Homo sapiens: one gene and its partners. The protein of the gene in region 1 interacts with the protein of each later gene in a pairwise test. Each region holds a gene or a part of one and is shown in the gene's direction. Other genes may lie near its edges.

Region 1 (3,500 bases):
ATGAAGTGGCTACATTTGTCACATAACTTAGTTTCCTAAATGATTATTTTTGCCGGTAGTTCATTTGTTTTAAATCTAAGAAAACCACGTTTTCTGGAAAATTAAATAGCTTCCAGCATTCTCTTCATTTCTAAACGTACATACATTTAAAATCAAGTTTTTGAGAACATAGTTTCGAACACCAGCTGGCTAGTTGATCACAACTATCACTGAGTCCAGAATGGGACAGGCACATTTACTTTTTCATTTTTTCCCTTCCATTGTGGCCTTAAGCACTAGATTTAAACAGATTTTAAGATGTTCAAATGTAAACTGAATGTTTTTATGCATGGTTTTGTATTTCTAACTAAAATGGAAGACAGTAGTTCTGATAATTCCCATTTTATTAGGTAATTCTCATTCATTCTTACGATCATTTTGTTATTTCTTTAAAACAATTTAAAATAATTTTAAGGCCTTTATTTTGGAGCCATAATTAAAGTATTCTTTTCATTGTCCATAATTAACTGTAAGAATTGAGAGGTGAAGTAAAAGGTGGTTGTAAAGTAAGATGTTTAATTTATTGTTTACTTTGGCCTCTCATTATCTCAATTCTGTTTGTTTCTATGAGGCTTATTTCAAATGCTTTTTTTCTTTAACCTTTTTCATTTATCTTTCTAGGCTGTCCTCCTTTCATCTGTACATTTCTTCCCCAGCCAGAATCAATTTCACTTTCCCTGCATGCTCTCATAACATTTATTTTTTATTTTTATTTTTTTGAGACAGAGCCCCATTCTGTAGCCCAGGCTGGAGTGCAGTGGCACAATCTAGGCTCACTGCAACCTCCGCCCCACTGGGTTCAAGTGATTTTCATGCTTCATCCTCCCAAGTGGCTGAGACTTACAGGCACGTGCCACCATGCCCGACTAATTTTGTATTTTTAGTAGAGATAGGGTTTCACCATGTTGGCCAGGGTGGTCTTGAGCTCCTGACCTCAGTTGATCCGCCCACCTCGGCCTCCCAAAGTGCTGGGATTACAGGTGTGAGCCACTGCACCCGGCCTCATAACATTTATTTTTTAAATTTTATTTTATTTTATTATTTGAGACAGGGTCTTGCTCTGTTGCCCAGGCTGGAGTGCACTGGCACAATCTCAGCTCACTGCAACCTCTGTCTTTCCGGCTGAAGCAGTTCTGCCACCTCAGCCTCCCCAGTAGCTCAGACTACAGACACGTGCCACCATGACTGGCTAATTTTAGTATTTTTAGTAGAGTCAGGGTCTCATCATGTCAGCCAGGCTGGTCTCGAACTCCTGGACTCAAGTGATCTTCCCACCTTGGCCTCCCAAAGTGCTAGGATTACAGGCGTCAGCCACCACACCCAACTTAAATTGTATTTAATAATAATAATAATTATTATTATTTTTTGAGACAGGGTTTCGCTCTGTCATCCAGGCTGGAATGTGGCGGCGAGATCTTGGTTTGCTGTGGCCTTAACCTCCCTGGCTCATGCAATTTTCCCAACTCAGCCTCCCAAGTAGTTGAGACCACAGGCATGCACCACCACACCTGGCTGATTTTTGTTTTTATGTTTTGTAGAGTTGAGGTCTCATTATGTTGCCCAGGCTGTCCTAACATTTAATTTACCCTTTATTAAATGTTTTTGTTTTGTTCCTCAAAATGATAAGGCTTCTGAGGCATTTATCTATAAATCCCTATAATAGCTAGATATGAACCTGTTACATGGTAGTTCAGTAAACATTTATTAGCTCTCCAACTCGTTTTAATGCAGTAGATGGAATCTTTTATTTCATTTTAATTCAGTGGATTTTAACCATTTTACCTTGCAAACACAACTGAGCCATACCACACTCTGTAATTACAAACAGTGGCTATGATAGGGATGGGAAATAGAGTAGGGAAGAATGGTATTCTTCCTCTTATTGCCCTATCCTGTCATCTCTGAGGTTAATTGATGTCTTTGAAATTTAATATACTCCATTTAAAAAAAATTTTCCCTAATTACAAAAATGTTATGTTTAATGTAGAATCCATAGAAATTATAATTACTTGCTTACTTTACAGATAAACTTTTAAAATACTTCTGTGGTATTCTTTTTGTTAGTCATTTACGGGTGTGTGTGTGTGTGTGTGTGTGTGTGTGTGTGTGTATTTCTGGTTTCATTTTGAAGGAGAGGAGAACCTCACTAGCTCACGTAACCTGGCAGCCGCATGTATTATTGATCCATATAAATAATGGAAGAAAATTTTAATCTTGATAGGATGTTGAGCACATGTGTTAAGGGGTACTTTGTTTGAAATACCTTATTGCTTAGTGTGCCAATATTGGTGTTGATGAGGTGTGAAATTTACATAATTATGAAAATAAAAGGAAAAATAATTTTGGATTAAAATATCTTGTCCATTCAGGGACAAGATAATTATTTGATATTTCCTCTCAATCCTTTAATATTGTTTTGTTTAGAATAATACCTGTATCATTCAAAATAGTTTATAATATTGTTTATAGTTATTGTTTAAATTGGCTTTGTTAGAACATAATGGCAAAAACACAGAATACTTTCATGGTAAATAAAATAATAGTTCTTTAGGATACAGTATTTGATTTGATTCAGACTTAAGTATAAACAAATCTATTAATAGATTTATATTTGTTACTAGTTTAGCTATTTATATCTTCCTTGACTCAGGTAAATTTTCAAATAGAAAATACATTTTTAATATAGTGCTTTTAAATATTTTTAATATTTTTAATTATTTCAAAGGCCAACATGTATAGAACAGAGAGCTTTGCATTCATTTGGACTACAGATACTCCTCTGGTTATGTCCCAATAAATCCATCATAAATTGAAAATATCCAAAGTCAGAAATGCACTTAATACACTTAACCTACCAAACATGATAGGTTAGCTTAACCTACCTTAAATGTGTCTAAAACACTTACATTAGCTGACATAACATCTAACACAAGTCCTGTTTTATAATTAAGTATTGAATAGCTCATGTAATTTATTGAATATCGTACTGAAGTGAAAAACAGAATGGTTTTGTTACCAACAGAATGGTTGTGTAGGTACTCGAAGTAATTTCTACTGAATACCTATTGTTTTCTTACCACCATGAAGTTGGAAAATTGTTAAGTCGAGCCATCTGTAGTCATATAAAAGTATGGTGACTCATCTTGTTTGCTTTATATGAGATTGAAGTCAAATTTTACCTTCTCAGGGGATGTCTTTTCAAGTTTTTAAATATCTCAGGCAATATATCTGAATAAGTTCACATCATATGTCTTTATTGATTAGAGATTTCTCATTGATTGGTATGAGGCATAATAATTATTGACTATGAGTGTTACTTATTTTTTTTCTTTTTTTTTCCGAGATGGTCTCGCTGTATTGCCCAGGCTGGAGTGCAGTGGCACATTCTTGGCTCACTGCAACCTCCGCTTCCTGGCTCAAGCGATCCTCCCACCTCGCCTCCTGAGTAGCTGGGACGACAG
Region 2 (3,500 bases), on another chromosome or scaffold:
GTTAGCACATGCCTGTAGACTTGGGAGGCTGAGGTGGGAGGATTGCATGAGTCTGGGAGGTCGAGGCTGTAGTGAGCCATGATCGCACCACTGCACTCCAGCCTAGGGGACAGAGCAAGATCCTGTCTCAAAAGAAAAAAATGTATATATTTGAATGGATAAAGAGATGGCTTTGAGTTTCTGAGATATATATGGTGCTGTTTATCTAAAGTAAACAAGTTTTCTGTAAATATTTTAAGGCTTTGCAGGCCAGCTGTAGTCTCTGTCACACATTCTTATTTGTGCATGTTTTTCCCAACCATGTAAAAATGTAAAGTGCATTCTTAGCTACTGGGGCAGGTTGAATTTGGCCCATGGGCTAGAGTTTGCCAACCCCTAACTTAAACCTTTGTACTAACTTTATGACCACTACTGGATTTTTGTTGTTGTTTGTTTTAGTTCTGGTGCCTGCTTTGTTTTTTTTTTTTTTTTTAATCCTCTTGCTGATGTTTCTTGGTGCAGTTACTGTGCCATTTGTATTGGTGCTTTTAATGTAATGCAAACTGGTAATAATATCTAAACTTGCTGGGGTTGTACATAAAATTATTGAAAAGATTGAAAAGATGCTGAGCATTGACTCTGTGGCATTCATTATGCCCTTTTGTGATTGCTGGATTTTAGCCATCTTTAGGACATTTGAGCTTTAGGAGAAGCCAAATTCTGTATAAATGACTTGAAGTGCTAATAGCACAGGTTTTGAAACCTCTGCCTGGGTTTGAGTCTCAGCTCTGCCTTTTACTACCTGTGTGATCCTGAGCAAGTTACTTAGTATCCCTGTCCTCTAGTTTCCTCCTCTGTAGTGTGGGGATAATAACATAGACATAACCTGAGAGTTAGAGTGTAGAGAAGGCTCCCTGGCAGATAGTGCTGTAGAAGTACTGGCCATTGCCATTACTCAGGTGCTTGTGTTTGCTGAACCTCATAGTAAGGGCTCGGAGAGCACTAAGAGGAGGTGAGAAATGCTGCTAGATTGACAGCTTGTCCCCAGATAGCCCATTCCCGAGAGCACCTTAGGTTTATACCTGATTTGTGTTGTAGTTAGTAGTGTCTCTGGTAATTTGAACTAGTTTCAGGTTGGTCTTGAAAACCTGGGGAGGTTGGGGGTAAATGATTTGGTAGCAGTTCTCTTTTGTGATTTTATACATTATCTTTGTAGAACTGCAGTTTGCTAATTCTCTGAGCCCAACACAATGAAGTCTGGGCCTAAAATCATAGAATTTCTTTTATTTTTTTTTTTGTTTTTAATTTATTTATTCCCTCCCTCCCTCCTTTCTTCCTTTCTTCCTTTTCTTTCTTTCTTTCCTTCCTTCCTTCCTTCTTTCTTTTCTTTCTTTCTTTTCTTTCTTTGGAGTCTCACTCTGTCACCAGGCTGGAGTGCAGTGGCACGAACTTTCTTCAGAGTCTCACTTTGTCACCAGGCTGGAGTGCAGTGGCGCGAACTCAGCTCACTGCAACCTCCGTCTCCTGAGTTCAAGAGATTCTCCTGCCTCAGCCTCCCGAGTAGCTGGGACTATAGGCATGTGCCACCATGCCCAGCTAATTTTCTTATTTTTAGTAGAGACGAGGTTTCACCATGTTGGCCAGGATGGTCTTGATCTCTTGACCTCGTGATCCACCTGCCTCAGCCTCCCAAAGTGCGGGGATTACAGGCGTGAGCTACCACGCCCAGCCTATTTTTTATTTTTTGAGGCAGAGTCTCACTCTGTCACCCAGGCTGGAGTGCAGTGGTGCAATCTCAGCTCACTGCAACCTCCGCCTCCTGGGTTCAGGTGATTCTCCTGCCTTAGCCTCCTGAGCACCTGGGACTACAGGCGCCTGCCACCACACCTGGCTAATTCTTATATTTTTAGTAGAGGCGGGGTTTCACCATGTTGGCCAGGCTGGTCTCGAACTCCTGATCTCAAGTGATCAACCTGCCTTGGCCTCCCAAAGTGCTGGAATTACAGCCATGAGCCACCATGCCCAGCCAAATCATGAGATTTCAATACCGCTGAACTTTGATTATGGCAAAGTGAACTTCTGCTTTGATTAAAGCTTGATGAGAGAGGTGGCTGGGGATAGTTTGAGATAAGGGCAAGGCAGGAAAATGCATAATCTTACGTGGGCTCATTGTCATTGTACAATTCTTTTGGTCCATGTGGAATTTGATCCGTCCTATGACTTAAGTTATGTTTATTTTTGTTTTTATTTTTATTTATTTTGTGTCTTTTTGAGAGACATGATGTTGCTCTGTCACCTGGGCCAGAATACAGTGGCACAATCTTAGCTCCGTGTAGCCTTGAACTCCTGGGCTCAAGTGATCCTCCCACCTCAGCCCCTCAAACAGTTGAGATTATAGTATGAACCACTGTGCCTAGCCTTAAGTGATTTTTAAATTTGTACTGAACAGTTTGTCCTTTCCTTCCATTAAATCATATTAGAAGTACAGAACTTGATATTTCCTGTAGCAATACAGTTTTTCTTTGATGAAGTTTGATTTCAAGTACTTATTTTTCATAATTTAAAGCTATTTTTTATAGAGAGAATTTTAATCAAATATTTGGATGTCACTATTGCTATATATGGTATTAAGTATGGTGACCATAGTTTGTAAACTCCAAACTGACAGCAAGACAGGAAATTTGTGTTAGCAAAGGCTTTTTTCTTACTGTTTGAATTTTTTAAAAATTAGATACAATACAGAGAGGAGCACACAAATCATTAAGAGTACAGCTCAGCGAATTTTCACACAGTGAACATGTGTAAACAGCAAGTAACAAAAGATTTACCTGCATCCTATAACCTCCCATTATTCCCTTTTCTAGGTACTGTCTCTCCACTGCATTCCCACCAAATATAACCACTATGCTGAATTCTGACATCATAAATGAGTTTTGCCTGATTTTGAGCTTTTGTGACTGGAAGTGTACAGTGTATATACCCTTTCGATTCTGTCCTCTTTAGTTTACCATTGTTTGAGAAATTTATCCATACTGTTCCAGAATTAACTACTGTTAATTATTGTTAATTAACTACTGTTGTAGTTAATTCATCCTCATTGTTATCTAGTATTCTTTTGTGAGTAAACACAATTTCCATTCTACTGTGATCCCAGCTATCCATTTGGGTCGTTTCCAGTTTGGGGTCCATTACAAATAGTAATGCTATCTGTAATGCTATTTTGTATTACTACAAATAGTAATGCTATTTGTGGCACAAAAATACTGCTTTTGTGAACATTCTTATACATGTCTTTTGATGAATGTATGTTTGCATTGCTGTTGTTTACATTATGTACCTAGTAATGGAATTGCTAGATCATAGGAGATGTATATATTAAGCTTTAGTGGATGCATTACATAATTATTAGTTATTATTGGTTATACCAATTTATCCTCTCATCAGTAGTATACAACAGTTTCTGTATCTCTAATCTCCAACATTTTAGCCATTTTAGAGTTTGTGTACTAACACATTGTGGT
Region 3 (3,946 bases), on another chromosome or scaffold:
AAGCATGAACTTCTCAGGTAAGCCACTTAAAAAACCCAAACCAGAACAAAAAATACACTACTGAAGGCTTGGTAGTGTAGAGGTTGTTAAATGTGTAAATAGGCAGACAAACTGTATACCTCACCATACACTTGCTAAATGTCTCTTTGCAAATCTCTTAAGAGGCCAAAGAAAAAAAGACATCCCTTTGAAGGAGAGAAGCAAAATCACTTATTTAGTTAAGCAAAATGAACACTCTGCACAGGTTTTGAAATGAGGCTGTTGTCAAAAGCATGTTTTACCTTTCTCTAAAGGGGTAGGAGAATGTGTTTTAGTGGATTTTTAAAAATTCAGATCATGTTCCTATCCAACTTGAAAAATAAATTCATTTAAGTAAATCATTCATCATCCTCAGTTTTGAAAAGCTCAGACAGAAGGCAGAAAGGTAGAGGCTGACAGCTGCCCCTCCCTTACCCCCACCATTTTTTTTCTTTTTGTTTATTAGGAAATAGTTTTCTGAGACAAACTTGTATGAACCTAGTTCACGGAGCAAGCTTAATCCCCAACTTGCTTGCTTTTGAAATGTTGGCCATGTTAGCTGGAGAAGGAGCATTACTTACTAAAAATCAGCAATATCTGGAAATAATAAAGTTAAATTGTAGATGAATTAGCACATTAAAGTGCTTTTGTTGTACCTTTAAGCCTACAGGCAGATCATTAAATATGCATTTCGCTAGAAAGCAACTGTCTAGAAAGATAAGGTGGTTGAAAATATTCTACGGTGGAAAAGCCCTCCATCAGAGAGGTGGCACGGTTCGGCCCTCAGGATGGGAAAAGAAGGACCCTCCCACTGTTAGTTTAGGTTTGCAAGCCTCCAGTGACCTGCAGTTGTTACAGTACTTTTGAGCTGGGAGGAGGGAAAAGGTAAAAATACAAGTATGGCTGTTGTTGCTTCAGCCGGGCCTTAATTACCAGACACAAGAAGCAGTTCAGAAATCTGGTCTCTGTTGTTGTAGAGGTCACCAAATCATTAACATCGTCAATCTGGCAGTAGCTAATTTAAATAGCACCTGATGTTGCAACGCCTCCCTTCGTTTCCCCAGCCAATCAGATCCAGGCTTCGGCTGACAGATGGTCCCATAAATGGATGTAAAAAGGGGAAGCTTCGAGCCAATTTCAGCAAGGCTCTGTTCAGTTGTTCTTATCTACATCCTAGAATCGGGGGTTTCAGCTCACTGCTCCTTTTCTTTTTTTTCTTTCTCTCCCCCGCCCACCCCCCCAAAAATAATTGATTTGCTTTACAATCATCCACACTGTGTTTTGTGGATCTTTAATTATATATAACAATAGTAGTCATTTTAAATATATATTCTGAAATCTTTGCAAATTTTAACAGAAGAGTCGAAGCTCTGCGAGACCCAATATTTGCCAATAAGAATGGTTATGGTAGGTATGACTAGATTTATAATCTGTTGTTTGTGTTGCTGGAGGGAAGAAAAGCATCTACACCTTGACCAGTCTTATGCTTGCACAAGAGTTTAGTTCTGTGCTGCTGTTTGGTTCCTACATTTACTATCTCTTTTGTGTAGAGAGTGCGGGTAGGTCCTTTTATTGAAAAGCAATGGGGATATAAGATTGTCATTTTTAGCAAGTCGTTGTCAGTTTTCCCTTCAACATAAAGGCAAGGGGTGGAGGGGGAGGGCTGAAATAATTGCTGGTTTATTGAAAGAGGTTATATTACTTGAGACATAATGGCAAAAGAAGGGTTTTCTTTTTTGTAAGGGAGAGGGGGTTTGTCTACGTGCCTGGGTTTTGTGGGGCTGGGGGTGGATGCAGCGGGGTTAGGAATCTCTCAATTTCCGTGCTGGAAATTTAAACCTCGAGAGGCAGCTCCTGGATACTGAACACTGAGATGGGCAGTTGTGTTTCGGGGGACTGCGCAGTCAAAACGGCAAAGAGAGTGATTTATTTGGGCTTCAGTAAATGCTGCATCTTGTATTTCAAAGAGTTTCCTGTCATGACCTCATAAAAAAGAGGAGGCGGCTTGTATGTGTAGCAGTGCCTGGCGTGTTGAGTTGTTGCTTCCTTCTCTGGGCAGCAGCTCTGTAAGAAGGAATGTCAGCTTTTACATAACGTTCCTTTCCGCTTTTGACACACTGTGTGAGGGTCCATCTTCTTCTGATCACAGATGGAGTGGAATGGCTTGAAGATGGTAAGTGAAAAGAGGAAGGCAGCCTGGAGGTCCCAGCCCTGTGTGTGTGTGTGTGTGTGTGTGCTTGTATGTGTGTATGTGTAAGGATGCTGGACTGTGCATCGTAAATCACTGTGCTGATCGTTTGTGTGTGTATGTATGTGTGTGTTTATTAGTATTTCTCTTTTCTGAAAACCAGAATCCATCTCCAAGTGTAATGGCACTGCATGCACACAAGGCACACACACTGCCTCTTCCAGCAAACACACATTTTAGCCAAGGAAGGTTGGTGTCTTTTTTGACAATCAATGTCACCGTCACTGTTGGCTGGCGTGTCCACCGCCTCTGTGAGCCTTCAACGGAATTACACGACTGCTAAAGTTAAAGGCACATTTCTTTTTCAGTCTCATGCTAGGAGTGATGGGGAAGGATGGGAATGAGGGGTGGAGGAGGTGAGATTCAGTACCAGCCGATGCAATTGTGAAACAGGACTTTCGGATGTGGAAGGGGAAGTGGAAAACCTTTCTGCCGAAGTAGTAAATCTATTTTTAGCATCATCTTTTTCTGAAAAAAGAAGCAGGGAAACTCCTTGAGTGCCGCTTCTGTCGCCTGATGTTGACCCTGAAGATATGGCACAAAATGGCATGATTAGATGCCACGAGTGCCCACTTTGACTTTGAATTTTCACCAGCAATAGGTTTCACAAGGTTTCAGAGCTGGGTATGGGGGCAGGCTGTAAATTCATAACCATCTTACTTATTTTTCCCTAGAAAAGCCTGGGGAGGACTTTTTGCTCTGCATAGATGTTATAACAAAGCTGTGGTCTTTTTCCCATTCTTAGAGGATTGCCTTTGTCTGGCTGCTTGTTTTGATGGGTGTAAAACAAATAAGATTAGACCGAGCAGCCCAACTGAAAGCGATAGCTGGGAGGAAAACCCAATGAAAGGTTGCCGGGGAAACGAACAGAGGAGAAGCCGAGTAGGGAGCAGGTGGCTATCATGAGAACACACTGCAAACAGTGTAAAAAAAAAGGGGAGGGGGACAGGACCTCGATTATCTTTGCTGTTCTTTGTGGCCAGCCCAACTTTAATTATTCGTTATTAATAGGTGTTAATTACATTTCTAACTCTGGTTTACAGTGATTTTTAGAAATCTATTTTTAAGCATCTGTTCTGTCTCCCCTGTTTTTGTGTGTGTGTGCGTGTGTGTGTGCGCGTGTGGTTTTTGTTGTTGTTGTTGTTGTTTAAAAAACCCAGAGAGGAGGTGAGGGGGAAGGGAGGGTAGGGAATCTTGCTTTTTTTTTTTTCCTTTTTCCCCCTTTTCCCTGGTGTGAAATTGTACATGCGAAAAATCGCAAGGAATCCTGTGAGACCATTTGAAAAAATGTAAATTATATTGAATGAAGTTGACGGAAGCATAATAGTGAACTCCCACAGCTGATAGGTTCTGCAAATGATTTCTTAGAAATTTCCAGCAAATATTCATAGGAAAAATATAGGTAGAATAGATCTACCCTAAGCAATGATTTGGGGTTAGGTGATTTTGGTATTTTTACTAAATCGGATGTTGATACTATAGTTTCAGGGGAATTCATTGTACCTCTCATTTTTTTCCTCAGTAGAAATTACTTTACAAAATAATAAATGAAGAGCTTTTTGCTTTCCTTCTTTCCCCATGCCCACAGTCACAGGATCCATCAGGCTTGCACTCTCATAACCACTGCCTTCCATTTGGCATTTGGTCCTGATTCTGGTCTTGGCACAAACTGAGTGAAAA
Region 4 (4,016 bases), on another chromosome or scaffold:
AAAAACCTTCAGAAGCAAGAAAATTACCAAGTAGCCCAAGAATGTAGATGAGAATTTTATTGATCGCCCTGATTCTTCTTAATATGTATTAATAAATTCCACAACCTTTTGTACCTTGCACTTGTCAGAAACCAGTGCTTTTACAAAATCCATAAAAGGAAAACATTTTTCTTTGCAGAAGAACCAAAATGACACCTTTGCATTTCTCTCTGTCCTTCTTGGCCCAGTCAGTTTTCTAAAACTTCTGGATTCTGAGGGTCAGAGTTTCCCCTTTTCTTAAATTATTTTTTCCTTTCTTCCTTCCTGTTTGCCCTCCATTATCAGGGTGTGGGGAGAGAAACCTCTGTTTAGTTCTCCTACAGGGAGCCCGAGGGACGCTTTCGCGGATAGTGAACTGCTGGCAAAGAATTGTCTCTGGGCTGAAAGCTCCCAGAGGTCCGGCCCCGCAGAGGTCAGGGTGTGGTTCCTCTGAGAGCCGAAGCCTCGTGTAGCCCTCCGGGGCGCATAGGAACCCGGAGCCAGGCAGGAGGACCGAGCGGGAGGACAACGCAGGGACCAACCCATCCATGGGGATCCGGGCCCGGCCAGCTGCTTGGCCTCCCGGCCCTCGCGGCCCTTTTTGCCTCCGCCCTCCTAGAGACACCTTGGCCGCTTCTTAGCCCCAAGGGATCTTTCCTTTGGACCCCTGGGGTGGGATGTCTCAGGGCCCGCGGAATCCGACTCACCTTCCCGCTGGGCTGCCCGGGACTAAATTAACCAGCCTGCGCCCCCACCCGCTTGTCCTGGACCCGGCCCTCTTAAGCGCGTTCTGCCTGGTTGTGTGTGGGGGGAATGCTTCTGTGCGCTGGCGCCAGGGCACTCTGGCTTCCCTCCCCGTCCGTGCGTGTCCACTTGGAGGCCCCTAGAGCTGAGACTTTCCTTCCGCCGGTTGGGCCCAGGGGCCGAAGCGGGGGACGCGAGTGGGGCGGGCTGGCCGAGCGAGCCCTGGAGAGGCGGACAGGAGGGCGGCGGAGAGCGCTGGGCCGGTTGTCTCCAGCGCGCACTATCGCGGGCGCGTAGTAGATGTCGCTGTTGTCCGTGCTTACCCGGCCGGCCGGCCAGGCTCTGGAGCACGTGACCCGAGAGGAGGCTGCGGCTCAAGGCCATTTTCAAATCTCATTGGCTTGGTTGTCATGTGGTCGGCAGAGGCATCCACAATTACACGGGGAATGTTTTCCTAGAGATGTCAGCCTACAAAGGACACAATCTCTCTTCTTCAAATTCTTCCCCAAAATGTCCTTTCCCAACAGCTCTCCTGCTGCTAATACTTTTTTAGTAGATTCCTTGATCAGTGCCTGCAGGAGTGACAGTTTTTATTCCAGCAGCGCCAGCATGTACATGCCACCACCTAGCGCAGACATGGGGACCTATGGAATGCAAACCTGTGGACTGCTCCCGTCTCTGGCCAAAAGAGAAGTGAACCACCAAAATATGGGTATGAATGTGCATCCTTATATACCTCAAGTAGACAGTTGGACAGATCCGAACAGATCTTGTCGAATAGAGCAACCTGTTACACAGCAAGTCCCCACTTGCTCCTTCACCACCAACATTAAGGAAGAATCCAATTGCTGCATGTATTCTGATAAGCGCAACAAACTCATTTCGGCCGAGGTCCCTTCGTACCAGAGGCTGGTCCCTGAGTCTTGTCCCGTTGAGAACCCTGAGGTTCCCGTCCCTGGATATTTTAGACTGAGTCAGACCTACGCCACCGGGAAAACCCAAGAGTACAATAATAGCCCCGAAGGCAGCTCCACTGTCATGCTCCAGCTCAACCCTCGTGGCGCGGCCAAGCCGCAGCTCTCCGCTGCCCAGCTGCAGATGGAAAAGAAGATGAACGAGCCCGTGAGCGGCCAGGAGCCCACCAAAGTCTCCCAGGTGGAGAGCCCCGAGGCCAAAGGCGGCCTTCCCGAAGAGAGGAGCTGCCTGGCTGAGGTCTCCGTGTCCAGTCCCGAAGTGCAGGAGAAGGAAAGCAAAGGTCGGTATGAGCAGAGTTGCCACCCCAGCGGGGCGCGCAGCCCGGGAACCCGGCAGAGAGGGAGTGCCGGGGTGCCCAGCGCCGAGCCGGAGCCCGACTTGGCAGGTGCTGCTCCGCCTGGTTTTAGAGGGGTGATCTCAGCCCTGAGATAGTCCCCGCTTCTCCCCTGCTGCCCTGGCCCTCTCCGCCAGTCCTGGCCCCACGCTGATGGCGCCCGGGCAGAGGAAAAGCTTGCCGGTTTTATTTTTCCTGAGCTAGACCTGAACACAACAAAAGAGCGCAAAGGAGACCTGCGGCTCATAAACACGACCACAGAGCCTCTTTTCTCCTGCTCAGATTTGCAGTTCCAGTTTTGCCTTGAGCCCAATGATCATGTTAAGGTGATCCAGGGCACCGTGTTCGTGTTCAAGTGTATGCACCCCGCATCCTGCGAGCTTGGGGGTGGTGAGGGGAAAGAGATGGCTGGGCTGGTTGGTGCTTGAGTTGGGAAACAGGGCTTACTGCCTTTGCTGGGCTAGGTAACCTTGGCTTTGTTTAGGAAAAGTGCTGCAGTCTTTGCAATCCGTCGGCAAAGAGGGCAAAGGCGGAGGGGGAGAGTGGAACCCGCATTGCCCTCCCTGCAAGGCCAGCCTTAGGGCTGGGCTAAGGCAAAGAGCCAGGGATCTGGCTTTTTGAGAAGGAACCCTCCTCCTCTCCCCCAGTGCTTAGAGGTGGGCCACAGTAGGGGGCTCCCTTTCTGGGGGAATGCTTTAGTGTGGGGGCAAGAAGACATGAAAATTAAGGAAATTCTGGGGAATGCAACAATACCCAGGCAAGGTGGGGGAAGGTGTCTCGCTTCCCCATTTATCTTTTGAAAGAGAATGGGCACCTATAAACCTGACTGTCAGGATTCCTGACTGCCTAGGAGAGGTGGGGAAGAAGTGGCAGATTTGGGGACCTGAGGCAGCAGTGGGGTTGGTAGGCTTGTCCAGGTCGTGGCGTATTCCCCTCCGTCCCTGTTAGGAGCTGAACCCTTAGAATGTTGCTGGGGAGATCTGGAAAGTTTACTATTCTACTAATGTTTTGTACAAGTGAGAAAGTTGAAAGAGAGAGCGAGAACCCAAATGCAGACTGTCCTGCCATCATGTCATTTAAGTAATGTGGCATCAATGTAAGATTCCCTTCCAAGGCCCACTTCATGTGAGTAATGTTTAATACTAGCATTTTCCAAAGCGGCCTGGCTGCCAGCAGGGTCACGGCCAAGGGTACATTTGAACAGTCTGAAGAAAAAAACAAAAACGAAAACCAAAACCAAAACCAAAACAAAAACAAAAACAAAAACAAACAAACAAAAAACCTCTTGATTTTTTTCTTCTTCTCCCTTTAATTTTGTTAGAGGAAATCAAGTCTGATACACCAACCAGCAATTGGCTCACTGCAAAGAGTGGCAGAAAGAAGAGGTGCCCTTACACTAAGCACCAAACGCTGGAATTAGAAAAAGAGTTCTTGTTCAATATGTACCTCACCCGCGAGCGCCGCCTAGAGATCAGTAAGAGCGTTAACCTCACCGACAGGCAGGTCAAGATTTGGTTTCAAAACCGCCGAATGAAACTCAAGAAGATGAGCCGAGAGAACCGGATCCGAGAACTGACCGCCAACCTCACGTTTTCTTAGGTCTGAGGCCGGTCTGAGGCCGGTCAGAGGCCAGGATTGGAGAGGGGGCACCGCGTTCCAGGGCCCAGTGCTGGAGGACTGGGAAAGCGGAAACAAAACCTTCACCGCTCTTTGTTTGTTGTTTTGTTGTATTTTGTTTTCCTGCTAGAATGTGACTTTGGGGTCATTATGTTCGTGCTGCAAGTGATCTGTAATCCCTATGAGTATATATATATATATATATATATATATATAAAAACTTAGCACGTGTAATTTATTATTTTTTCATCGTAATGCAGGGTAACTATTATTGCGCATTTTCATTTGGGTCTTAACTTATTGGAACTGTAGAGCATCCATCCATCCA
Region 5 (3,500 bases), on another chromosome or scaffold:
AAAAAATTAGTTGGGCATGGTGGACGGTGGCATGTGCCTGTAGTTCCAGCTACTCAGGAGGCTGAGGCAGGAGGATCACTTGACACCAGGAGTTCGAGGCTGCAGTTAACCATGATTATGCCATTGCCCTGTAGCCTGGGTGATCGAGCGAGACTCTGTTTCAAAAAACATAAATGTATTTTTAAATGAATAATTAAGCTGCCTCTTCCCTTCACCCCAGCCCCCTTTCCCAGTGATGACCATTACCTTATGTTTTTATTTCCTCTCAGAAAATGTTTGAGTCATAGATCCGCATATTAATAATAAATTTTAAGACCGGCATGATGGCTCACGCCTGTAATCCCAGCACTTTGGAAGGCCAAGGTGGAGAGATGGCCTGAGCTCAGGAATTTGAGACCAGCCTGGGCAACATGGTGAAACCCCTTCTCTACTAAAACATTAAAAATTAGCCAGGCATGGTGGCGGGTGGCTGTAGTCCCAGCTACCTGGGAGGCTGAGGCACAAGAATTGCTTGAACCTATGAGGCGGAAGTTGCAGTGAGCCAAGATCCCGCCACTGCACTCTAGCCTGGGTGACAGGCGAGACTCCATCTCAAAAAATAAAAATTAGGCCAGGCGCAGTGGATCACCAGGTCAGGAGTTCAAGGCCAGCCTGACCAATATCGTGAAACCCTGTCTCTACTAAAAGTACAAAAATTAGCTTGGTGTGGTGGTGCGTGCCTGTAGTCCCAGCTACTCGGGAGGCTGAGGCAGAAGAATTGCTTGAACCTGGGAGACAGAGGTTGCAGTGAACCGAGATTGTGCCACTGCACTCCAGCCTGGGCAACAGAGCGAGACTCCATCTCAAAAGAAATTTAAAAATAAAATTAAATTAAATTAAAATTAAAAAAAAAAACAATAATAATCAATTTTAAAATTTACCCAAATGTTGTGATGATGTTTTTAGAATCCCTATGTTTTAGAGATATATACTAATATAAAATACTAATCTATGTCATAGTATAACATATATAATACAGTATAACACATACTGATGGAAACAATATTGTGTATGGTATTTTCTCCAAAATAATTGGGATTAGAAGGATAAAAAAAGAAACAAAATTGCCCATAAGCTGCTGATTGTTAAAGCTGCATTATGGGTACGTGCGGGTTCATTATTCTATTCTCTAATTTTGTATGTTTAAAATTTGCCACAATAAATAGTTAAAACCAGGAAAAAGTTACTCCAATTAGATTGTTTTATGAATGCTTTGCTTTTTTTCACGTAAGAACGTATTTTGTAGATCAGTCCATTTTTCTACGTCAGTCTTTTTAAGTATTATGTATACTATTCCACTATATACAAGTTCCACGATTTATTTAGCAAGTTCCCTGCTGATGAGTATTTAGGTATTTCTGTCCATAGCCCCTTGGCTTATTGAGTGCTGGTGTCAGTAGGGGCCTGTGGAGAGGGCAAAGTTTGTGCACTCCAGTCTACCTACTGGGACTCTTGAAATGTACACGTTAACTCCCTCTTTCCAGGAAGACTTTCAGGGGCCCCTCTGCTGTGACACTTACCACTCATTTGCTCAGTGTCCTGACATTACTTGCTGTTGGGTTTCCACAGAACATCTTACAGTGCTTGGCCTGTGATGAGAACTGGATTAGAGTTTTTTTTACATGTTAAGAAGATATGCTTAGTTTTCTCTCTGAAAGTTGGTTTTGACAGGATGATGGTGGCCCTTGATAAGTTGCTGAGGATAGGTATTTCAAATCAAATATGCTCGAAAAAATGTATTAGCTGTGACCGAAAAGCAATGAGATTGTGTTTTTAAAAAATATACTAGAAGCCAAACCTATGCCAGCCTTCAAAATGTTCACTTGGGATCTCTGCACCTGCTTCAGCATGTTGCACTGTCTCAATATTAATAGTCATAATTTTGGGAGTCCTCTTTTGGAATTGCCTCAGAGTCTGCTGTGGATCCCCATGAAATGAAATCACTTTGCTTTAATCACACTTCAGGTTTCAGGTAATACATAGATTGGTGAATGAAATAAAATAAGCAGTTTTTTAGCATTGTATTTCTTTTGATTTCATCCTTCCTGTGAAACATACTGTTAGTGTTTAAAATAATCATGATCAGTCTAAATTAAACATTGTATGTTTCACTTGTAATGATAAAGTTAGTGTTTATTATGTATGTTTTATATAGTATATACATGTGTATGTGTATATATATAAAATAAACACAAATACCAACAGTTGAAAGAAAAGAGAAAACGAGAGCAAATATCTTGTGACATCTTAGTATGCCATGCCATAGTACATGTATAAAAAGGGTATAGTTGTCTGTTGACTTGCTGTGTGTTAAATACATAGTCATCACAGTGGTGTGTGTTTTATGACTAAATCATGATGCAATTATCTTTGGATCGTAGACTGCACTTTGGGGAGCCTAGAAAAATAGACTCATTTCTACCTCAGGGGCATCCTTTCCAAGTTAGAATGCTATTTATACAATAAAATGCAATGGCTAACCTAGAGACTGACTACTTTCTATTTTCCTTTACTACTGAATCGCCCCCTCCAGCTGTTTAGTAACTTCTTTTTGTACAATCAATCATGTATACAATATGTGGCTGCCCTTTTCCTCCTCTGTAGTCTGTCCTTTAAGAAAACAAGAGGCTATTTGAAAAAGGAAAAGCATCTGTGAAATGACTATTTTCATAGGAGTTTAGAAAAGTTAAAGAGTGCCTTGGCCCTGATTCTAAAAGAAAGGTTGTATCTTGCTACTGCAAAGTGAGAACTTTGAATCTAGTTAGGGTTTTTTTCAAAGATACAGTTCCCTCAGTGGCCCCAGGTAGTAAGCATGATGGCTCAGATAAATAAATACCTGTTGGTCACACTGTATATAGTCTCTCTGTTAATCACTTAGTGTTTCATGTTTGCTTTATGAAAACGTTGAAAAGATGCATCATTTTGAACCTTCCTGGGTACAGGTTTCAGTGGTACCCACATGTAATTTTATGTTTAGTTTGGGATTTAATAAAATTGAAGACACAGAGTATGAAACTAGATGGATCTTGTGTAGTAACTGTTTCAAAATCAGATTCATTGCTAAAGTGTACAAAAGCAGAATTATACACAGAGAAAACCAAGTCCCAAGTCTAGATGGGTGTGGCAATGCGCCTCATGATCCATTAACTTATCATTAAGAGCATAGGCTCTAGAGTGAGCTTCCTGAGTTCAAATCCCAGCTCTGCTATATCTAGGCAGTTCTCATAGCCTCTCATCTATAAAATGGGGATAAGAGTGTTTTGGCATAGACCTGCTGTGAAGATTAAGCGAGAGCATCTTCAAAGAGCTTTTAGGAGCAGTATCTGGCATATAGCAAGAGCTCAATGAATATTCATGATTATTATATTAGAGACAGTATCAGTACAGTGGTGTGTTATAAAAGTTTGCTTTTCTCTTAATTATGAATTACCTATATTTTGGACTCTGAGTTACGACTTTCT
Region 6 (3,500 bases), on another chromosome or scaffold:
TCTGGCCATAACTGAAAAACAAGCACTTCCAAGAAGGGGCAAAGGGAACATGAATTTATGCTGAGAGGCGTAGCTAAGCATACATATTCAACAGATTATGGGAGGATCTATGAATATTCACAAAGGGAGGATCTATGAATATGCACACATGTGGAGTAAGCTAACGTGTGCAGCATGTCTCCCATGTTCACCTTAGGCAGAAACTTAACACTAACATGTATTACAGGGCAACAAAATGAGACTGCATATCTACATAACCTAGCTATTTGGTAGGCTGAAGCAGGAGCATCACTTAAGACTGGGAGTTCGAGGCAGCTGTGAGCCATGATCGCACCACTGTTCTCCAGCCAGGATGACAGGGCAAGACCCTGTCTTAGACCACTCTGTGGTCAGTGGTTATCAGGAAGGAATGCTAGTCAGTTGTGCTGAAACCACTAAAAAGGAAGGGCAGAATTAGGTGATGAGTTGATACCAGTGGTGAAGTGAGTCTTTTTTTTTTTTTTCTTTTTGAGATGGAGTCTTGCTCTGTTGCCCAGGCTGGAGTGTAGTGGTGTGATCTCAGCTCATCGCAACCTCCACCTCCTGGGTTCAAGTGATTCTCTTGCCTCAGCCTCCCGAGTAGCTGGGATTACAGGCGCCTGCCACCACGCCTGGCTAATTTTTTTATATTTTTAGTAGAGACTGGGTTTTGCCATGTTGTCAGGCTAGTCTTGAACTCCTGACCTCAGGTAATCCAACTGCTTTGGCCTCCCAAAGTGCTGGGATTACAGGCAGCTCCAAAGTGCTGGGATTACAGGCATGAGCCACCATGCATGGCCTGAAATAATTTTTTTGAAAGGGCTAGTTTCTATTTAGCCCTTAGGGGAAAAAAAACTAATGGCAGTTAGGGAGGGAATAGAACGAGTCCTGTTTGAACTCCTTTCCCATCATGGCCAAAACTTAAAATTTTTTTTAGATATCTCTGGGCTCCCCTTGGCCAAAAGATAGTTTGTTGAGTCAGTTGGGAGCTTAGAATTTTGTTTTTATTTCTCACATCATTGAATCAATTTGAACCAGGCGACAAAACCTTCTGCTCCCAGTAGTGGGTCAGAGAACCTTCCTGATTCCTGCCCTGAGATTGTCTCTCTGAAGACAACATTAGGCTAGTAGGCTTTCCAGATTCTGTAACCCATTCTTTCAAAGGAAGAGATGCCTATATTTTTCTAGCCAATTCATATACCTTGAGTATCACTCAAGGGCAAAATTATTTCTAACAAATCATTTACTAATTAGCAAATGCTTAAGTGTAGATTTAGAAAGCTAAAGCTATACAGTGGCTGCCATCTATAGTTTGGACTTGTGATTAACTACATTGAAATGCTAACTCTGTACCCTAGAGTATGAATTCCTGATTAGAGTCCTTCAGGTGCTAACTAATTTATGTATTTCATGTTTGATAATATTATTACTTGAGCTTTGTGGGAGAGCAGTCTTTTCCTCCCCTGAGATATAGCTAGAAGTTACCTCCTTTGTGAAGCCTTCCTAGATACTCCAAGCAGACACGGTCCTTCCTTTCTCCCTTGCCCAGCACTCTGAGGTTGACTCTGTGGAGCACTGATCCCTCTGTGTTATAATTGTCTATTTACACGTCAGCTACCACCTATAACACACTGAGTTCCTCAACAGCAGGGACACTGTCCATTCTTTGATCCCAGTGTCTGGAACAGTGCCAAGTACATAGTAGGGACTTAATAAATATTGATTCATATGTAAATGAGACTTTTCCAAAACATGCTTTCGTTGATGCCTCTCAGCATTTATACACCTTTTACCAACTCGCTACTGGCCACATAGACAAATGAAAGCAGTAATCCAGATACACCCAAGAGGACATCTGTTCTTTTTTCTCTCTGTGGAGTGGGAGACTTAAGTGGCTTCTTAACTGGTGTGTCGTCTGATCAAGTGGTCCAGGTAACAGGTGGATGCCAATGTCTGGCCCAGGCATCACCCCTTACTGGCACTGGTCATTACAGAAGACACTCTACCAGAGCTGAAAGGACCTCTTGTCACTAGGCAGCTGTGGAGTCCGCTCTACTTGACCTAGTAAAATCTGCCTGGAGACTGTTAGAGTCACCCCACTACCTGAAGTTACCTCCAGGCTGACCTCTTTTTTTTCCCAGGTGGAGTCCTGGCATCTTAGATATTTTAATAAGGATTTGCTTGTTGACATGTTCTTTATTCACTAAGGTGTCAGCATATTACTGTCTTAGAACTGAGGGTTCTTCATCTTTTTTGGATCAGGACCTCCCTCTAAGAATCTGATGACTGCTCTGGTCCCTCTCCCAATAAAAACTTCCATACTCACCTGTTAAAAAAAAAAAAAACTTTAAACAAATTAACAGAGTTTTATTCAGCAAAGAATGATTCATAAATCGGGAAGGCTGCAACCAGAATAGGTTCAGAGAGACTCCACGGTGTGCCACGTGGTTGGAGAGGATTTAGGATTTATGCACAGAAAAAGGAAAGTGACATGCAGAAAATGAAAGTGAGGGCCTGGTGCTGGTGCGGTGCCTCACGCCTGTAATCCCAGCACTTTGGGAGGCCGAGGCGGGCAGATCATGAGGTCAGGAGATCGAGACCATCCTGGCTAACACGGTGAAACCCTGTCTCTACTAAAAATGCAAAAACTTAGCCGGGCGTGGTGGCAGGCACCTGTAGTCCCAGCTACTTGGGAGGCTGAGGCAGGAGAATGGTGTGAACCTGGGAGGCGGAGCTTGCAGTGAGCCAGGATCCCGCCACTGCACTCCAGCCTGGGCGACAGAGCGAGACTTCATCTTAAAAAAAAAGAAAAGAAAAAGGAAAATGAAAGTGAGGTACAGAAACAGCCAGGTTGGTTACAGCTTGGTGTTTGCCTTAAACTTGGTTTGAACAGTTGGCCGCCTTTGATTAGCCAAAACTCGGTGATTGGTACAAGAGTAGATTGCAGTTCACTATGTACAGAGAAGCCCTTAGATCCGAACTCAAAATAGGTAAGGAGGCAGTTTTAGCTACACTTAAGTTAACATACTCAGGAGTACCATTCCAGCTTCAAGCTGGAAGTGTCTGCAGCCCCCTGAGACCACTTAATCCCAAGTTAAAAACCCCTGCTCAGAGGCAGCATCTTTTTTTTTTTTTTTTTTTTTTTTTTTGAGAGAGATCTCACTCTGTCACCCAGGCTGGAGTGCAGTGGCACGATCTCAGCTCACTGCAACCACCACCTCCTGGGCTCAAGGGATTCTCTTGCCTCAGTCTCCCGAGTAACTGGGATTACAGGCGCGTGCCACTATGTCCAGCTAATTTTTTTTTTTGTATTTTTAGTAGAGATGGGGTTTCACCATGTTGGCCTGGCTGGTCTTGAACTCTTGACCTCAAGTGATCCACTGGCCTCAGCCTCCCAAAGTGCTGGCATTAGAGGTGTGAGTCACTGTTCCTGGCCCAGTGAGGCACCATCTCATTGGATATGGAGACAAAGGATCTGGCTT
Region 7 (3,500 bases), on another chromosome or scaffold:
TTGTTGATGGCTGAAAGCAGAATGCACTGAATTAAACTAATTTAGTCCATTTATTGCTTATCAGGCTCAATAAGAAAAATCTGCCAGGAAAATTTCGCTAGCGTTTGGAGTGTATTAGCCCTTTTTTTTTTTTTTTTTTTTTTTAATGGCAAAACCAAAATTACTTCACCGAGACCCAGGGATACAGTGGTGGTTTTTCTTTGGTACTCTTTTTGTGCCTCTAATAGGCTAGATTCATTCAAAGTGTACTTTTAATGGGGGAACAACATGGTATTTTTAACAAAGTTGTTTTATAACTGGCTTTGAAACTGAATGTTTTTAGTTATTTGAAGTTGAAGACAGGACATGCCCTATTTGATATGTCAGAGATGTTTGGATATAGATCTCTTTGGGTGTAGATCAGTGTGGAGAAGTTCCAGCATGTGTGTGGAAAGTCACTGATAATCCACTGTGGAGTTTTCTTCATTTTAAAAATGAGCAAGCATTGACTTCTAATTGTATTTCCACTTGGAACTTTCTTTATTCTCTTTGCAAGAATAAGGCTTTTAGAATTCCTTTTTTCAAACTGAACTGTTTACTGAACGTTTTGTTTTTTAGCCATTCTTTTCTGTTTGTCAGAATCTGCTCAGCCAGTACAAAGTCTGTTTGGAAATAGTGTGTAAAGGTGAAGTAGAAGGGGCACTGACATCTTGTCCTAGATTTTCCTCCCCAAGTCCCACGGTCTTGGGCAAAACAGAGGCTGTCCAGCTGTGTCTTATTTGCATAAGGAGGGTAGGATGGGCCAGGATTCTAACACTTCAGATCTGTGCAGGTATAGATGTTAAATTATCATCACCAAGTAATTCAATTATAATTTTTTGTTTTCAAAGTGTACTTTTAATGGGGAACAACGTGGTATTTTTAACAAAGCTGTTTTATAACTGGCTTTGAAACTGAGTGGTTTTAGTTATTTGCAGTTGAAGCTTTTGCAGGAAAAAGCTCTATTCTGCTTTACTTGGTGCGTTCTCGTCCTCAATGAGGTAATTTACTTTTATTCTCGACACAGAAGAATTGTAAATAGTCCTTACATTCCTGATGGGAGAAATCTTTTTAATGTGTTCATAATTCTTGCTCTGAATGTTGAATGGGTTTCTAAAAAGTGATTAGCGAGTTGTCATTAGTTTTCAGTATGTTTGTGTTACATGAGCCTTATTTAAAGGCATCCCATGACTATACTTCGTAAAGTATATGATCATCACTTACTTTTGCTTATAAGTCTGGATGTTTATAAGATTTGCATAAAGTTAATACTGAAGGAAGGAAACCTCGTTAAGAGAACATATCTAGTGCAACTATAGACATTTTCTTTCAAATAACTATTCTATAAGATGAAGTAATAGAAGTAGTTTTTTTCCTGTTACCTTCTTGCTGTTTATTGTAGATTTTCCTCTTAATGAGGGATCCTCAAATTATATTTCATAATTTTTATTGTTTTATTTTTCTTTTAAAAGCTGGGGGCTCTCTTCCCTATAGCATCCAGACAGCTGAAAAACAGAATTGGCTGCATTCCTATTTTCAGTAAGTAATTGGTTTAGACTGCTGCTATTGCTTCTTTAGGAATTAGAGTGTTATTTATGTCACTGGTTTGTTTTTTTTTTTAAAAGGAACTTTATGTAATATAGCTATATTCTTTCATCTACATATGTTAGTGATAGAAATAATTTAAAACAAGGTTTTGAATTTTTTTTGGAATAGGTTTTTAATACCAAAGAGGAAAATTTATTGCTGTGAGGTTTCTATTTAAATATTGGCATGCCAAGAAAGACAAATAGAAGATCATGTTGGGTAGTTTAGAATTTACATAAGCAGCATTTTAGTTCATTTTTCCAAAATATAAAGTATCATTATTCTGTCTGTACCGTCACACATGCAGCTGCAAGCTTGTTGAGGGCAGATTCTTTGCTGCCGTTTCCTGAGGATACAGGACAGTATCTGGCGTGTTGTCAGAGTTCAGTAAATGCTGAGTGGACAAGTGAAGGGAATGTCCTTCACCCTCCTCCAGCCACAGCAGTTGCACAGCCTGCATATGCAAGGCCAGTCTGTTTCATGCTTGTCTCAACAGGTGTTTGCTGTGCTGGTTAGCCAGAAATGAAAGCAGAATTACTTTGAATTATAGCTTTCAACTGTAAGTCAGTGTGTAATCCTAGAGCTTTTCTTTAGTGCTTTCTTGAGAGGTTTTTCCTTACAGAGGACATTTCTTTAAATTGAACTCATTTAAATATTATATTATTAAATTCACTTGAATGAAGACAGTGATGGTACCTACCTAAACCTGATTCTGTTTTCACAGACCATCTGTTAATCTGGAGGGACCATCCTCTTATATTCATAAGTAAAGATTGTTGCTTCATGATATAGGTTCCCATAGAACCATAGTCTGCAATATTGGAAACTTAGAAACCAAACTCAGATTTGTGAATGTCAGCATTTGACTAAAGTATTTCTGCCCTCGCTTTTCAACATTCATTTTTTTCATATACTGTTTGTATTTTGCCTTTTTTGTATTTTGTTTCATTCAACAAGCTTTTGCTGAGCCTCTACTCATAACACACCGTGGAAGCATGATTCTTCCCTTTAAGGAGCTCACAGTTCAGGCAGGAGACATATACACACATGCTGTTAAAAGCACAACAGAAATAATATGTATGCATGTATGTATGTTCATGGCAAAAATGGAAAGGCTATATGCTGAAAGGTTGCAGTGCTTCTTGTGAAAAGTGGGAAGTTTATAATTCTAAAATGGGCATGCGTTACTTGAATGGAGTTTCATAAAATCTCACAGGTCACAGAGTCGTGTAGCCACTGTTGATTTTTAGATAATAGGCTCTTTGTTTTCATGCAGTTTCCTAATATTAGGATTATGATCAATTTTATTTCATAATTAGTAACTTTTGTCTTTTCTGTCACTAGCAAATGGTCAGCTGAGACTTCTGGCCGCAGCAATGCCATGCCACATATTAAGACATATATGAGGCCTTCTCCAGACTTCAGTAAAATTGCTTGGTTCCTTGTCACAAGGTAAATAGTCCTTACATTCCTGATGGGAGAAATCTTTTTAATGTGTTCATAATTCTTGCTCTGAATGTTGAATGGGTTTCTAAAAAGTGATTAGTGAGTTGTCATTAGTTTTCAGTATGTTTGTGTTACATGAGCCTTATTTAAAGGCATCCCATGACTAATCCCTTTGTAAAGTATATGATCATCACCTACTTTTGCTTATAAGTCTAGATGTTTATCAGATTTGCATAAAGTTAACATTTACTTCTGTTATTTAATACCTCAATAGGGGTTATGCAAATTGACATTTGGGGTAAGTACAGAAGAATAATGAAATGTTAAAATTAATATTTTTTTCTTAATTAGTTTCTCCTTAGGTAATTGAAATCTGAAGCAATCAAATCTCTTATGTGTCCTTTTCTAAAACATCTTTAAGGTGTAATTCACGTACCATAAAATCTGCC

The links.
Region 2: the proteins of PIAS1 (region 1) and ATXN3 interact in binary tests that used the Homo sapiens proteins (3 or more experiments, as listed by UniProt).
Region 3: the proteins of PIAS1 (region 1) and ELAVL4 interact in binary tests that used the Homo sapiens proteins (3 or more experiments, as listed by UniProt).
Region 4: the proteins of PIAS1 (region 1) and HOXD10 interact in binary tests that used the Homo sapiens proteins (3 or more experiments, as listed by UniProt).
Region 5: the proteins of PIAS1 (region 1) and APBB2 interact in binary tests that used the Homo sapiens proteins (3 or more experiments, as listed by UniProt).
Region 6: the proteins of PIAS1 (region 1) and FXN interact in binary tests that used the Homo sapiens proteins (3 or more experiments, as listed by UniProt).
Region 7: the proteins of PIAS1 (region 1) and TDP1 interact in binary tests that used the Homo sapiens proteins (3 or more experiments, as listed by UniProt).

Annotation. Positions count from the first base shown.
Region 1 is NC_000015.10:68,088,815-68,092,314, forward strand, and holds part of PIAS1 (E3 SUMO-protein ligase PIAS1), read left to right. Parts: intron 1-3,500. UniProt on the Homo sapiens protein: Functions as an E3-type small ubiquitin-like modifier (SUMO) ligase, stabilizing the interaction between UBE2I and the substrate, and as a SUMO-tethering factor. Catalyzes sumoylation of various proteins, such as CEBPB, MRE11, MTA1, PTK2 and PML.
Region 2 is NC_000014.9:92,100,083-92,103,582, reverse strand, and holds part of ATXN3 (ataxin-3 reference isoform), read left to right. Parts: intron 1-3,500. UniProt on the Homo sapiens protein: Deubiquitinating enzyme involved in protein homeostasis maintenance, transcription, cytoskeleton regulation, myogenesis and degradation of misfolded chaperone substrates.
Region 3 is NC_000001.11:50,107,774-50,111,719, forward strand, and holds the start of ELAVL4 (ELAV-like protein 4), read left to right. Parts: upstream 1-1,146; 5' UTR 1,147-1,416; coding exon 1,417-1,425; intron 1,426-2,059; exon of another isoform or gene 2,060-2,167; coding exon of another isoform or gene 2,168-2,191; intron 2,192-3,946. UniProt on the Homo sapiens protein: RNA-binding protein that is involved in the post-transcriptional regulation of mRNAs. Plays a role in the regulation of mRNA stability, alternative splicing and translation.
Region 4 is NC_000002.12:176,115,562-176,119,577, forward strand, and holds the start of HOXD10 (homeobox protein Hox-D10), read left to right. Parts: upstream 1-1,216; 5' UTR 1,217-1,272; coding exon 1,273-2,017; intron 2,018-3,392; coding exon 3,393-3,670; 3' UTR 3,671-4,016. UniProt on the Homo sapiens protein: Sequence-specific transcription factor which is part of a developmental regulatory system that provides cells with specific positional identities on the anterior-posterior axis.
Region 5 is NC_000004.12:41,008,543-41,012,042, reverse strand, and holds part of APBB2 (amyloid beta precursor protein binding family B member 2), read left to right. Parts: intron 1-3,500. UniProt on the Homo sapiens protein: Plays a role in the maintenance of lens transparency, and may also play a role in muscle cell strength. Involved in hippocampal neurite branching and neuromuscular junction formation, as a result plays a role in spatial memory functioning.
Region 6 is NC_000009.12:69,056,252-69,059,751, forward strand, and holds part of FXN (frataxin, mitochondrial isoform 1 preproprotein), read left to right. Parts: intron 1-3,500.
Region 7 is NC_000014.9:89,990,427-89,993,926, forward strand, and holds part of TDP1 (tyrosyl-DNA phosphodiesterase 1), read left to right. Parts: intron 1-1,490; coding exon 1,491-1,557; intron 1,558-2,949; coding exon 2,950-3,057; intron 3,058-3,500. UniProt on the Homo sapiens protein: DNA repair enzyme that can remove a variety of covalent adducts from DNA through hydrolysis of a 3'-phosphodiester bond, giving rise to DNA with a free 3' phosphate.